Linked DNA regions of Homo sapiens: region 1 is linked to region 2. The links come from fine-mapping of genetic effects on gene expression. Tissue or cell type: nasal epithelium. Region 2 holds a variant in brackets; the other region holds the start of a gene. All regions are shown on one strand. Distances are between the middles of the regions.

Region 1 (8,106 bases), 90 kb after region 2:
CTCTTTTCCCCTCCCATAACCTGTAGCACCACTGTAACCTGATTTACTACCATAACCTGGTTTTGGCCATGCTCCAAGACCTCATTCTTTTGTAACCTCAAGATGGTACATGAGCTTCTGTACTCCCACTGAGGAGTTGGAGGTCATCATTCTCTCCCATGCACGTTAATAAACTTGTATGCCATTTCTCCTATTAATCTACTTTTTGTCAGTTTATTTCTCAGTGAAACTTCAGAAGGCAGAAAAAAAGTTTTCCCTTGGCCCCTACATCACCAGGGTGACCTTAGAAATGACACTAAAGGCCAGGCATTGTGGCTCACGCCTGTAATCCCAGCCCTTTGGGAGGCCAAGGGGGGGTGGATCACCTGAGGTCAGGAGTTTGAGACCAGCCTGGACAACATGGTGAAACCCCGTCTCTACTAAAAATAAAAATAATTAGCTGGGTGTGGTGGCAGGCACCTGTAATCCCAGTTACTCAGGAGGCTGAGACAGGAGAATCACTTGAACTTAAGAGGTGGAGGTTGCGGTGAGCCGAGATTGCGCCACTGCACTCCAGCCTGAGTGACAAGAGTGCAACTCCACCAAAAAAAAAAAAAAAAAAAAAGGAAGAAAGAAAGAAATGACACTAAAGATGACAGAGTTTCTAAGAAAAGAGTCACACTCCAGCTTCTCTCACCTCTGAGAGATTTTGCTTGGATATAACCTCCTCTAAGAAACAACTCATTACATCTTACATCTTCAGTATGCATTAGATGCCCTTCTACAAGTCTTGTGCCAATTATGCTTTTATTAAGTAAGAGGAAATATAGAGTAGTCACTCTAAGTGCCAACTCCGGATTCACTTCTATCTGGGTTCCAATGGTTTGGCTTAGTCATATGGCCAAGCCAAACTTCAATACCTTTGTTATTTGTTGGCTCTGTGACTTGAACAACTTATTAAAACCTCTGTGAGTTTCCTTTTCTCAACTTTAAACTGTTGCTACATCAATAAATAGACTAGACAAGTGTTTAAGGACATAAACTCTGGTATCAGACTACTTGATTTTGAACCCCTAACTCTGCCAGTTACTAACTTTGCAACTTGTTCTCGCCAGTAGGCAGTGCAGTGGTTAAAGGGTCATGTTCCAGGGCCAGACTGCCAGCGTGGAAATTCTGGCCCCACCCAAAGGTGTATTCGCCATTAAGTTAATGGCATGAAGCCTCAGGGCTTCCTACTTATGGGTGCCTCCTCCAAGATCCTGTACCTGTAGTTTACATTTGTAAGTTTGGATTCTATTTCAAAAAGAGGTTCTCAGATACTGTAAATCAAAACTCAGATTCCACAAAACCTGCTTGCAAAGTTGACTCTGCCATATACTGGCTATATGGTCTGGGTTAGATATTTATCTCCTGGGTCTCTGTTTCTCCTCTTGTAAAATGGAATAAAAATGGCAACCACCTTCACAGGGTTGTAATAAAGATTGAGCTAATATATGTTAAAATGTTTAGAGCAGTGTAATGCACACAGCATATGCTTCATGTGTGTTGGTGTCTATAACTCCCTCTCTGTCCACTCCTTATCTTCTTCTCATGAGCCCTGTCAGGACTAAGATTATCTTTCTCTTTGTAAACTTAGCCTGTGGCAAGCCTCACCTATATTCTAACTCTTTCCCTATGGGACTATACACATTCTCTTCTGTAAGCTTCCTGAGTTGTTTACAATCTGATTTTATCAACCTTTATCTGATTTCTTAAACCTAGACTTGTTCATTCTTTATGGCATAATAATTATGGTTTCTTTTTCTCCCTAATCTTCTTCCTCAAGGGACCTCAAGCTTTTCTCTTAAGACTTTCAACTGATCCAATGAGTCTGACCCATATTATGGAGGTAATCTGTTTTACTCAAATTTTACTGATTTAAATGTTAATCACATTTAAAACAAACAAACAAACAACAACTTCACAGCAACTTCTAAACTGTTGTTTTTCCAAAAAGTGGGCACCATGCCTAGCTAAGCTAACAAATAAAAGTAACCATCACAGCAGTCATGGCCTGAATAAGACTTGTCCTAGGCCAGGCACAGTGGCTCACACCTGTAATCCCAGCAATTTGGGAGGCCGAGGCAGGTGGATCACTTGAGGTCAGGAATGTAAGATCAGCTTGGCCAACATGGTGAAACCCCATCTCTACCAAAAATACAAAAATTAGCCGGGTATGGTGGCACCTGCCTATAATCCCCACTACTCGGGTGGCTGAGGCATGAGAATTTCCTGAACCCGGGAGGTGGAGGCTGCAGTGAGCTGAGATCATGCCACTGCACTCCAGCCTGGATGAGTGAGATTCTGTCTCAAAAAAAAAAGATTGTCCTGTACATTGTAGGTATTGCAGTTTCCTGCTAGCTCACAGAAGAACAGCCTCATTACCTTCAATAGATGCTCTTAACCCATCGTCATCTGCCTTCCTCTGGACACTGCCTTTTGGGAGTGCTGGAGTTGCATCCTCAAGGACAGGGCTATGCCTTCAAAGAGCCAAGCAAAGAACTTTTCCTGCATTTTCCCACACAGACACTTCCTAGATTCTTCTGCCTTATGCCTGCCTTGGTCAGTGTAGCTAGGATGTGCTTCAAATGGAAATTATGCAAGTGAGAAGGACCAGGTGTAAAGACAATTTAATTGTGGGAAAAGGCTTACAAAGGAAGGTCATTGTGACCCTCACAAGCAGTGTTCTTGAGTGGATAGGACATAAACAGGGAAGAAAGCATGTGATCATGAGAACAGCTGAAGTTCTGAGTGAGCAATGACATGAATGGTGTCCAATTCAAAGAAAAGAGAAGGTAGATCCAGGAGCTGAATAAACAGACAGAGCAATTTTGAGAGATACATCCAGAAAGCAGAAGCACACACTTACACTTTAGCTCTGAATCCTGGCTAAAGCAACATACAGAGGCGGTAACTCCTAGAACTCTGATTTTCACTCTGTTGCCAGAGAGGCTCTTCCTGGGCAGCTGTGTGCCATGCAAATGATAGAAACAAATCCCATAGTATTGTAAGTCATAGGTTAAGGAGCAGATTTAATTTCATAAGGAGAAATAACACAATGCCAGTGTCAGCAAGAGCAAGTCTCCCCATCATCCCAAGGAGAGGAATTCTACAACCTGGGTATCTACTGGACATAATGTGGGCTCCATTCTCACAGAAGGAATCCTTTCCACTGTGGTTCTTCCTGTGTGGCTTACGCATGAGACAAGTGTAAGAAAGTGGCCATGTCAATAAGAAAATAAGCCAGCTCTTTGGTGCCAAGAAGTCTGATTTGGGGGTGCCAGCTATTTATAGGAATTGTCTAGAATTAAAATATCACCCTGCCTTGGGGATTGTGGGGCAGCTGGGGATCTTGGACATCTGCAGTATATTGCAACCACACCTGAAATTAAGAAGGACTCAATGACAATAAACATCTTTACATCACCCAGTGTCTTGAACTCACTTCCCCATCATGTAGAGCAGCTCAGGTCTTCTCTAGCTCTTCCACCTCATGATGGGTAGTGACTGCTAGGGAAGTCCTGATCATCCTAGCCCTCCAAGAAATGTTTTGAATAGCATTGCATCTTGAACTCACTATAATTTGATCAAGCAAAGATGTTCTATGTCTCTGGTCTGAAACCTGCCACCACAGCTGTGTTCTCTGCTTTCAGAGACCAGGGGAGCAGTGACTGAAGCTAAGACTACACATAGCACTTCAGACAGGCAAATTAGGAGGGAAAAGAAAACTGAATCTGTAAACTCGGGAAAAACTGGTGTATCTTTTGAGGTCCCAGCCATTTTGAGAAACTCTGATGCTGAAAAAATAAGGAAGAACAATCTGACTCCTCTCTCAAACGCTGACATTCTAGCTGAGTGTTGATTTTTTCTTAGAAAAACAAACTTTGGGTCAACAAGGAAAGATCACGAGTGGGGAGGGTGAATGGGTGATTCACCTCATGGATCTCCCTGGCAGCTCTTGCACTTCCTTGATCAATCTGTATATAAGAAATGTGCTGGGCACCTGGGACACCACTTCTCTGGGACACATTGCCTTCTGTTTTCTCCAGCATGCGCTTGCTCCAGCTCCTGTTCAGGGCCAGCCCTGCCACCCTGCTCCTGGTTCTCTGCCTGCAGTTGGGGGCCAACAAAGCTCAGGACAACACGTGAGCCATGCCCTTCTCCTCCCCACAAAAAAAATTGCAGGGAGGGCTCCTCTCCCAGTCTGGAAATTACATATCTCTTTCTGAGAATTTCTTTCAACTTCCCAGAACTCTAGTCCCAGGAGCTCCCATGGATCTCCTGCCAGGTTCCACTTCTTGTCCTCTTAGGAAGCCCCACCAACTCCTCTCACATTTTTGCTGGGTGTTTCTGCATTGCCAGTGGAAATAAAGCTCCAAATGTACCTACAGGCTGTAATTAGTAGTTAGTCTTCATCTAACATGCTGATCCACATCTTGTTCATAATTTATACCTTTGTTCAGATTTCTGCTCAGTAAACTTTACCTTCTCACACCTTGCCTCCTAGAAGAGAAGCATAACAGGTCTGTGAATTCCAATGGCAGCTTAGGGCAGCTTTGGCAGGACTGGCTAAAGGACCAGAGGCCCTGGCCACTGCCCTGTGGTCTGAGATTGAGCTAGACTGGCAGCTTAGACATTCTTCCTAACCTGAAGTCTGAAGATGAATATGATGACCTCTTGCTCTCACGTATACTGGGACCTGAGAGCACAGGTTCAGAAGTCAACTTATTGAGAACACATGTGTGAAGGAAGCAGAAAAATTGGAGCAAGTAAAATAAAGTAGAAAATGGAGCCAAGGGTCTGGGAGAAAGCAGCGATACCCAATCTAGGGAGTTTTCTCTATAGCAGTAGGGTTTATAATGCTGGGTTTCTGGGTTGTGATCTTGGAGGTACTCTCTATGGCATGGTCAGATATCCTGTCCTGGAGGAAACTGTTCAGGGTTTTGACAAGCTAATGTAATGGAGGCAAGTGTCCCAAGAAACCCTGCATGGGGACAGGTTCAGATCCCACCCCATTCCCGCCAGATGACAGTCCACTTAGCCCTGAAGGGCAGCAAGGTATTCAAATAAGCTATGCTAATTAGGTTATCAACCATCCATCCTGATTTGCCCAGAACTTTCCTGGTTGTAGCACTGCAACTCTGCCCTCCCCCGCCACCTCCACAACCCATTCTGGAAAAGACCTCAGTCCTGGGTAAACTGAGATGGTTAGTCACTCGAACTAAGCTGGTCATCCTATCAATCTGAAACTCATATACAAATGGGAGAGATTTTGAAGTTGCTTAGGTATTTATACCCTTTTCCTGTGCACTGGGCACTACAGCAGTTGGCACCAAAAAATAGAATCTCTCTAAGATGCTTTGCCCCAAGAAAATGGGGCTGTGAGACACTGTGGGCTAAGAATCTCAATTCCCTTCTGTCCCACACAATAACAAAGGTCCGTAGCCGGGAGTTTCTAGGGACGAGAAAATAACTCTCCTGGCCCCGAACCCAGTCCTCATTGACTGAAGAAGAACATTTGACCATTTTATTTGTCTCCATTTCCTTTCCTTTTCAGATTGCAGTGTATGGTCTAAATGTAGAGTAGTATCTAAAGTTCCCAAACATGGCCATATGTCCAAATTTCCTAAGGAGCTAAATAAATACAAATTCCTAAACCCTACCTGGGGACCACAGAAGGAGGATCTTCAAAGATGCTCCTACAAATACCTCCAGTGCATTGAGATGTTTGCTGGGTTTTTAAAATTTTTTATTATTTTATTTTATTTTTCCATAAGTTACTGGGGTACAAGTGGTATTTGGTTACATGAGTAAGTTCTTTAGTGGTGATGAGATTTTGGTGCACCCATCACCCGAGCAGTATACACTGCACCATATTTGTAGTCTTTTAGCCCTCACCCCTCTCCCACTCTTCCCCGCAAGTCCCCAAAGTCCATTGTATCATTCTTATGCTTTTGAGTCCTCAAAGCTTAGCTCCCACATATCAGTGAGAACATACGATGTTTGGTTTTCCATTACTGAGTTACTTCACTTAGAATAATAGTCTCCAATCTCATACAGGTCACTGCAAATGCTGTTAATTCATTCCTTATTATGGCTGAGTAGTAGTATTCCATCATATATATATATATATATATATATATATATATATATATATATATATATATACCACAGTTTCTTTATCCACTCGTTGATTGATGGGCATTTGGGTTGGTTCCACAGTTTTATAATTGTGAATTGTGCTGCTATAAACATGTGTGTGCAAGTATCTTTTTTGAATAATGACTTCTTTTCCTCTGGGTAGATACCCAGTAGTGGGATTGCTGGATCAAATGGTGGTTCTATTTTTAGTTCTTTAAGGAATCTCCACACTGTTTTACATAGTGGTTGTAGCAGTTTACATTCCCGTCAGCAGTATAGAAGTGTCCCCTGATCACTGCATCCACGCCAACATCTACTGTTTTATGATTTTTTGATTACGGCCATTCTTGCAGGAGTAAGGTGGTATCGCATTGTGGTTTTGATTTGCATTTCCCTGATCAAGAGGTTTGCTGGTTTAATGTGATTCTGTTGCTAGAAAATTTTCTCCTAATAATGACTTGAGCCCTCCTACTCAGTAGACAACCACCAGAGCCTGTAGGATGTTATCAGGAAGTGGCATGTGGTATTGTACATTTTTTCTTTTTAAAAACTTGTTTTTGGTCAATGGAAGGGAAGAAGATGCTCGTTCATTGATGGGCATTTGGGTTGGTTCCATGATTTTGCAATTGTGAATTGTGCTACTATAAACATGCATGTGCAAGTATCTTTTCTAAATAATGACTTCTTTTCCTCTGGGTAGATACCCAGTAGTGGGATTGCTGGATCAAATGGTAGTTCTACTTTTAGTTCTTTAAGGAATCTTAAAGTGTCCTAGTTGTTTTATTAAACAAAATTAAATCTGTGTGAAGTTACCAATCCAATCAACACATGAAAATTCCAGGGGATTCCAATGCTGAACAATTGATCCAAGCCCCATAATTTCCCTCCCTTGCCCATCCTGTGCCCCTTGCCCTGTTCATGGCTCCCCCCTCACTCAAAGATTGGTCTCTGATCCTGGTGTTCTGATTCTCTCTTCCCACAATCAGTCGGAAGATCATAATAAAGAATTTTGACATTCCCAAGTCAGTACGTCCAAATGACGAAGTCACTGCAGTGCTTGCAGTTCAAACAGAATTGAAAGAATGCATGGTGGTAAGTAGAGGACTGGGGGCGTGACTTCAAAAGATAATTCAACTCCTTGATTATAAACATAATTTAATCTCTCACTTTAATAATGTACAGTGTACTTAATGAAACATTCTCACTTATGTTATGCTACTTGAGACTCAGAACAACTGTGGGAGCTTGGGACAGATGACTTCTCATTTTCCAGATGAAGAAGTTCGAATCCAGAGAAGTCTAGGATAAATAAGAAGGAAAGGAAGAAGGAATAGGAAGTGAGAAAGAGGGAAAAAGAAAAAAGTGTAAGAGCTAGTAGAGAAGCAGTTAGAGTCCTTCCAAGGTCCTGAGCATGTTTAGTTTAGGATGGAGGGAGGGGAGTTCTCAGAAGAGAAAGCAGCAACTCCACACCATAGGTTGAGGTGGGTGGGCAGAAGAGGACATGCAGGATATGACTCCTCCTCTCCAGTAAGCACTGAGCGACTCTACTGTCCTCTTGCCTTCTTCTGCTCCTTTGCTCTGGGTCACCAGAAGTGGACTCTTGTTCCAGCCTCCCCACCCTGACAAGGAGCTCGTAATCATCTCCTCCTTTTCCCCACGTTCAGAAGTCCAATCTCTGAACAAGGTCAGAGGTTTTCAAATGGTAATGTGTCTAAAACTCACTCGGGGATCTTGTTAAAATTCAGAGTTTCATTCAGCAGGTCTGGGGAGAGATTAGAACTTCTGGATTTTAACAGACGCCCAAGGTACACCAAGGCTGTGCCCAAAGGATCACATTTTTGAGCAGCTTGGGATTAGAGCATTATCCCTCCTGTCTAGCTGCCAAGGGCCAGAAGTCAAATAGACTTATGCAGTTATTAATCCACAGTGACTCTTCCCTGGGACACT
Region 2 (8,106 bases):
GCCATTCTCCTGCCTCAGCCTCCTGAGTAGCTGGGATTGCAGGTGCCCACCACCGCGCCCGGCTAATTTTTTGTATTTTTAGTAGAGACGGGGTTTCACCGTGTTAGCCAAGATGGTCTCGATCTCCTGACCTTGTGATCCGCCCGCCTCGGCCTCCCAAAGTGCTGGGATTATAGGCGTGAGCCACCGCGCCCAGCCATGGAGCTAGTTTTCAAGCTTTCTTCTTAATGGTGACCTGAGCCTCTCAGTCCAACATGAGGACTCTCCACTCATGACTCTTTGGATGGAACTCCTCCACAAAGCTAACATTTTTGTCTGAATCAGTTCTCTCTAGATAACATCATGGGCCATTACAGTCCACACCAGATCTAGTACATAAACTTATCCTAGATTAATGATTTTACAAGTGAGTAGAAGTGTTTGCTGAATATCCTTAAGCTCAAGGCCATTCCATGTCTATGTTTGACTTTCCCACATAAGTATACTCGGACACAGGTAAGAGAAGTCATCATGGCCCAGAGAAAGAAAAGGACATTCTGGCAAACTAGTAGAACAGATAGGGTTATTACCTATCCACTATATAGGGTTGCATTAATAATGTATGTTATTAGAGATAGGATTATTACCCCAGTGGCAGAGACATTACCCACAAAACAGGAAATGAGAAGGAACAAACCTTACTGACCTGCCACAAAACTTCCTAACTGACCTTCACATCTACCCTCGCTTCCCTCTGTCTACTCTGTTCTCCCCATAGCAGCCTGCGTGATCCTTTAAAACACAGACTAGATCAGGTCTCTCCCCGGATTAAAACCTTTCTCTCTGCCATTTGGTTAAAGTCCTGAGACCTGTGAGGCTCTGCATGATTTCTAGAAATACCTTTCTCTAATGTCATCTTGTGTCACTCCTCTGCTCAGTGACACTGACATCCTTTGTGCTCCTGTAATGGCACGCTGCTCCATCTCTCAGAGTGCTCATTGTGATTCCCACCATGCTGTGCCTAGTTAGCACCAGATACCAGTTAATGATTACTCCTATAGATGCTTCCCATAACCTCACAGACATATCCATGTTCAGGTTCCCTGCCAGGGGCTTTCCAGATATTACAGTAAATGCTGCAGTGCGCTGCCCGGACTCCCATTCAGAACCAAGATGCTAATTACCCCCAAATTGCTCCCAATCAAAGAGAAACACCTTCCCCAAGATTATAGCCCTTCCTCTAAGGTAGCCTGCATCCAATGGCCTATGGATGCAGAAGTATAATGCCCAGGCCCCAAGTTTCTGTTCAGGACAACTCTGGGCACAATTCAGGACAACTCTGGAAAGCCGTCCTAGCTCAGAGCTCCCCGTAGGATTTAAGCCTCTGTTGTGACCTCATCACAGGTCTGTCCAAACATCTTCTCCCTCATCACTCCCAGATCTAAGACAACCACGTAGTTTCTTGCTCAAAACAACTCACTATTTTGTAAGTGTGTGTGTGTGTGTGTGTGTGTGTGTGTGTGTTTACCTGGTTTTATAGCGTATGGTAACATCGGTCTTCATCAAATATGCTCCATAGTGGGGAGACCATGTCCACTCTGTTTACTGCTGTATCTTCAGTACATTGTCTAAAAAATAACAGTTATTCAAAAACAATTCTTATTAAAGTTTGTTTTTTTAATTTACAGTGAGATTGAGTTCTTTTCATGTTTAAAAAATCATTTGCAGTTTTCTTTAATGAATGTACAGGTTTGTAAGAGAACATTTTGCATAAATCAAACAAATCTTTATTTCATGTTTCTGTTTTTATGTTTTGTTTCTATCTTGCATAAATATTTCATCCTTAGGCAGTTACACTTAACAGTCTTTTAGACTCCCGGGATCCGTGTTTTCCTTTGAAAAGCCTATGTTCATACTCCAAGGAAATTAAAAACAAACCAAAAAATCCCATTTTTTACTTTTTACATTTAAGTCTGTTTGAGCCATCGGGAATTTATTATTTTTTGGAAGCATAAGGTATAGATCCAGGGTTTTGGTTTTTCCAGATATTCTGTGAATGTAATACATATTTCTAGGACAAAGGGAAGGTGGTGACAAGGAAGGGAGAAGAGAGAGAGAGCCCCCAAAAAACAAACTTAGAGGCCTGCCATGGCAAAAAAAAAATACCTCCTCCTCTATCTGGGTTGGGACACAGAGGGCATCCATATTTGGATGTGGAGAAACAAGAGATTAGAATGACTATGATATTAATAAGGGCCAAAGAATATCAGCAATGGAAAGATAATGTTTTCCAACACTTCGTTTTACATATTGTAAGCCTGAAACTCAGAAATCGAGTGACTTGTTAAGGTCATGCTGCAGTTTACTAGCTGAGTTGACATGAGTGACCGGGAACTCCTAGACCACCCTTCTACAGGAGGCAGTCAGCTGTTGTCAGCAGGGAATGAAGCACCAGTAGGTTGAGTGGAGTGACCTTCAAGAATCCTGGCAACCCTGAGATTCTGAGACTCACAAATGTGCTTTTGAAGATCAGCAGTCTTATAATCAAAGACAGATGCTTTAAGGTGAATAAGTTACATACTGGAACACAGTAAAAGCTCAATAAATACCTCAGCAATGAGTGTGGCATGTCCTTATCAATAATGATAAGTAAATGTGCCTCTGGACATGATGAAGAGGATCCATGAGCGTAAGTGTGCAGTTTATGACAACGTCAGTGTCTGGGATGGTTGCTGGAGTGCCAGGGAGACACAGCCCCTTGGGACTGAGCAGTGGAGAAAGGGGGAAGGGGACCTCACAGCTGGGGATCCTGAAGCTTCAGACTCTCCTCCATCCTGTAACACTGGGATAGTGAGGCCAGACAGCAGGAAAGGGCTGGAGAAGAGCATTGCTAAACAAACTTAGCTTGCTCTTGTCAGCTTACTAACATCTACCATGCTCTTCTATACCCCAAGACGACCTGTACTAGTGTGTTACATAACATGTTTTATTTAATTCTGAAATTAACCTTATGAGGGAGGCATTACTATCCCCATAATATTGGGGATTTTTTATTGAATAAAATTCCAGATTTTTATCTGCGTTACATTTACTTAATGAATGCTTAGTCAACAACTACTATGTAAATGTTACATTTCAAACCCAGGTCGAACTCCAAAGCCCCCCACCACACACACACACACACACACACACACACAACTGAGGTGCTGGACCCAGTCCTCATCTGCCTCTTGTTGCTGTCTGACTGTACCCATTGTTAGTTTAAGCATCAGCGTTGTACAACCCAAAGGACTCCTGGCTTTCCCTTGTTCCCACAAGGAGCACCCTGCTGGAGTCTAAAGTTTCCCATTTGGCCCAGCTCATTTCTTAAAATCAGCAAGACCCAAAGGTTTCAAAACAGAGTGGGTGAACAGCACCATCATCCCTGGGAGCAAAGAACAGCAAGAGAATCATTCTCATTGGATTTCCCTGCCACCTCCATGCTATCTCCAGCCTGACATCAGTCATGGATACTGCTGCCCTGGGCTGTATAGGGAGAAACAGTAAGTCTCTTCATCACAGACTCAATGAAAGTTGCTGACAGATTCTAACTTGTGGAGTCACTTGCAAAGCAGGGCCAGGGTTGCTTGCCCCATTCCCAA[G/A]GGGCTTATGTCTCCGTGTCAAAATCTGGGTACCACAGTCAGGAAGCCGCCGAAGTAAATGACCTAATAAGAAAAGCTCGCCATGCTGGACTTATGAATTAAGATGCATTGGCTGGGTCTGGAGAATGAATGAGTTATAAGGATTCGGTTTCGGTTAGTCAAGATGAGTTTAGACTTGGCATTAAGATTAGTGAGAGGGTTGCATGCTTACTGCTTAGGGAGATAGATCCACTTCTGTGATTAGATGTCATTGCTGATGGCCAGGATACAGTTCTAGGAAATACCTGTGGTTCCAGAGAGACAGCTAACATGTGTCTTCTCAGGGCTTCATTTGTGTGCTCTCATTTCTGATTTTATTTACTACTTATGGATCTCTAAAGGTATTCATTCAGTTAACTATAATTAAAGTGTGCAGCCAGCACACTGCTGGACCCATACATAGATGCATCAACACACACACACACACACACACACACACGCACACACACAAACCCATCACCTTCACGTTAAAGAAGTGTGGTTGGCGGTTGGGTTAGAAGGGGAGATGATGAGAATGAAGTTTCCATGCCAATAACAACAGCGGAAACTGCTGTTATTGAACTCTTCCTATGTGGCAGCCATAATCCAATTTGATGCTCACGCTAGCTCTACTATTTTTTATCTTACATCTGGGGAAAATTCCACTCCAAGAGGATTAGTATCAGCCCAAGGTCATACAACTGGCAATTCACAGGGCCAGGATATAAACCTAGACGGTCCAAGGTCTGTGCCGTCAGCCCCCATACAAGAGTGAGTCATGTCAGGGAAGGGTGGTCCACTAGGATAGTCACAGCATTTTAAGAAGCAGAGCTAGAAGTCCAGTGCAATCCACATACCACACACATCTTTCAGGGACTGTCAGAGCAGCAGCATCCAATGGGTCTTGCCTGGATTCCAGAGCTTGAATCTAAATATCTTGATTCCCTTTCTGCCTTCAGCCATTGTAAACATGTAGCAGATGGTCACCCCAAAGGGATCTTATTGTCTCTCTGTTCTGGCTCCCCTTGCTTCCTGAATTGAATGGCTTTGCTGCTGCTGCTGAAAGCTGGAAATATGTGGCTGAGTGAGAGTTCTCAGCAGAGGGGCATCTAGAAAGCCTCACAGGGGTGCTTTAGACTGGCTTCTGTGCTCAGCCTCTGGCCATGCTCAGTCCCGTGTCCTGCCTGCCTTTCCTCCCTCCTTCTGCTCACAATTTCTGCTTTTCTTTGTCACTTCTGCTGCTTCTCTTGGGTTACCTTTTATTCCTTCTAGCTTTCTGTCTGCATTCCTGGGCCTCCTGTGTCTCTCTGTCTCTCACTTTCTCTCCATTACTGCTTTTCTAACACCTCGCCTCTCTGGTTTTGTGTTTCTCGCATCCACACTGGCTCTCTCCTGTGAACCTTGGCCTTTCTTTATCTCTGACCACAAAGGTACATAGGGCTTAACACAGAAACGATGAAAGGAAACTTAAGGGATTAGAATGTAACACTAACAACATCTGCTACAGCAAGGTCACGCTGAAGTCACCAATAACTCAAATCTTTCAACGGCTTTTAACAACTATGTTTGTTTCTCACTCATGCCATGCGCCCATCACTAGCCAGGAAGTAGACTCTGCTCATTATTATACTGTAGGGACTGGAGCAGTAGAAAGCTCCCTTTAAACACATTCTTCCATGATCTCAGATGTGGAGAAAAAGGGAATGTGACTCAAATGCCAACCCTTAAAGCTCTTGCTATGAAGTGACTCTCATTACTTCTACCCATATCTCACTGGCTGAAGAAAATCACTCGACCACTCCTGAATTAATGGAGCAAAAATATGTGATATTCCCACTGGGAGGGTCACCTCCAGGAAGGACAACAAATATGAGTGAACAATTATTTGTCCATTATAAACGTCTGGGTTTCTGTTTGTTTGTTTGTTTTACTTATTCTCTTCCTCATGAATTTTGGGTTTAGCTTATCAAATAATGTAAGTAATTTCAGTTTCACAGTTTCTGTCACTGCTGAGCTACAGAATATCTGAAACAGTCATAGCATTACTATTCTTGGCATGATATAGAGGGAAAGGACAGTGTGTGAAGTGGGTGAAATCAGAGCTTCGGTCTCAGGCCCCAACATGTGATGACTGAGAAACACTGACATTTACTTAAGCTCTGTGAGATTCTACATTGTTATCTAAAAACTGAATATAATAATTCTCCCTCACAGGTTAACTCCAGAATAAATCTGTAGTCATTACATGTGATTTTTTTCTCCTATGTCTCTCATATTCTTCTCATTCAATCAGCAAGATATCTTTTATATAATCAATATAAATCAATAAGCAATGTAATGATATACAAGTTTGGATTATGTTTAGGTTGGTGAGACAAAATGACATAAAAATTAAGAGCAGAGTCTTTGGGATCAGATCTGATTCAAATTCAAACTCTACCATGCAGTAGCTGGTGTTAGTAGCTACTATCAATGTTTTTGTTTGTTTGTTTTGTTTCTTTTCTTTTGAGACAGGGTCTACCTCTGTCACACAGGCTGGAGTGCAGTGGTGCAATCATAGCTCACTGCAGAACTCCCAGGCCCAAGTGATCCTCCCACTTCAGCCTCCTGAATAGCTGGGGCTACAAGCACGCACCACCACACCCATCTAATTTTTGTATTTTTTGTAGAAATGGAGTCTCACTATGTTGCCCAGGCTGGTCTCGAACTCCTGGGCTCAAGCAATCCTCCTGCTTCAGCCTCCCAAAGTGGTGGGATTACAGTCATGAGCCACCATGCAGCCACTATTGTCAATATGATTAAGGATTGAAAGCCATTCCAGCCAGGTGCAGGAGACATCCCTATTTGTCATTTGTCTACCATTGCAGCCCATATCATTCACGATTTATTTGCCTTGCTCCACCCCTTCCTTACTCTGAAAAATTAGAATATTAATAGAAAACAGGTTTTAGGATCAGTTTTTATATCACACAAACATTTACTAATGCTTTGAGCTCAGATATGTAGGAATATTTATGTAAAGAAAAACATAAGTTGTATAACCCTTACCAAATTTTCCAAGAGTCATGGATTCTTTTACCAAGAAAAACCTCACAGATAAAGAAACTTTTTAAAAAGTCTTGCTTTTTTTGTTAAAATAAATTTTTCTCTAATTTTTGAGAGCTAAATGGTTAACTGAAAAATAAGCATTCATTAACAGAATGTGTTACACAAAAATTTATCACACATTTTAAGAGACGTATTACGATATATGCAAAAATCAAGACTGTGCTGTGTGGTTTTTAAGCTTAGTGACAAGTAGATCAAATAAGGTCTATGAATCGTATTTGTGTTTGACATCTAAGCAAACTGTCTGGGATCAGTTGTGGGAGTAAAGCAAGATGTTTTTGAGGCCTCGCGATGTGCATGTGTGATAGACAGAGTAATATTTTGTTGTTTTTATGTTTCAGAGATGCTTGCAGCTTGGGTGATATAAAACTCCCAGTGGGGCAATGTGTCTGCCTTCCTCATAAATGGACAAAAAGGAAGAAATACAGTGTAGTATCAGAACAAGCTTGACTTCAGATACTGCAGCCTCCTGTTCTCTGAGAAGGGGAGTGAAAAGAGAGTGGGGTGAGTTAGTGTCTTTCTTTCCATTCAGGATCAGATATCTGACAGAGTAGTCTAAGCCTTAGAAAAAGAAAATTTTGTTGACTTATCCATGACAGGTTTTTTAAAGGGCCACAAATTTTTTGGCACTCCTCCCATTAAGATATGGCTCTGGCTGGGTGCGGTGGCTCACACCTGTAATCCCAGCACTTTGGGAGGCTGAGGCAGGCGGATCACGAGGTCAGGAGATCGACACCATCCCGGCCAACATGGTAAAACCCTGTTTCTACTAAAAATACAAAAATTACCTGGGTATGTTGGTGCATGCCTGTAATCCCAGATATTCAGGAGGCTGAGGCAGGAGAATCACTTGAACCTGGGAGGCGGAGGTTGCAGTGAGCTGAGATCACACCACTGCATTCCAGCCTGGTGACAGAGTGAGACTCTGTCTCAAAAAAAAAAAAAAAAAAAAGATATGGCTCTATGCCCCTGCCTCTTGAATCTTGTGTTGCTTGGACTCATAAAAGTATGGCAAAAGTGACCATATGTGACATCTGTGACAATCTTATTTGACAAGTAGATCAAATAAAGCCTATGATTTGTATTTGTTTTAGACATCTAAGCAAACTGTCTGGGATCAGTTGGGAGGATAAAGCAAGACATTTTGGCACAAGTACTGTGTATCATCTTTGTGCATAAAATGGGTGCCCCTTTCCATCAGGTAGATGCAGCTCCTTCAGCCCCCATGTGCCCCTTCAGTCTCTCCATCACCACCTTTGTACAGTCTACAAGCCACACAATTTTACTCAGGGGCCCTAATTCAGCTCCTATCTCCATCCACCACCAGGCAAGTGCCCTCTTGCTAGACTCTTCAATTCTC

Evidence for each region. PIP is the estimated chance that this variant, and not a neighbour inherited with it, causes the effect.
Region 1: PIP starts here. The variant in region 2 is fine-mapped to the expression of PIP in nasal epithelium (TOPMed, PIP 0.98). The same link has a PIP of 0.9 or more in lung.

What each region holds. Positions count from the first base shown.
Region 1 is chr7:143,128,049-143,136,154 of GRCh38, forward strand. PIP (prolactin induced protein) reads left to right here and starts at 4,029. Exons shown (of 4, transcript NM_002652.3): 1 at 4,029-4,163; 2 at 7,146-7,251. The coding sequence starts at 4,069.
Region 2 is chr7:143,037,885-143,045,990 of GRCh38, forward strand. It overlaps LOC105375544 (a long non-coding RNA gene), which reads right to left and starts at 3,048. Exons shown (of 2, transcript XR_001745395.1): 1 at 1,508-3,048. The variant G/A (reference allele first, on the strand shown) is at 3,621.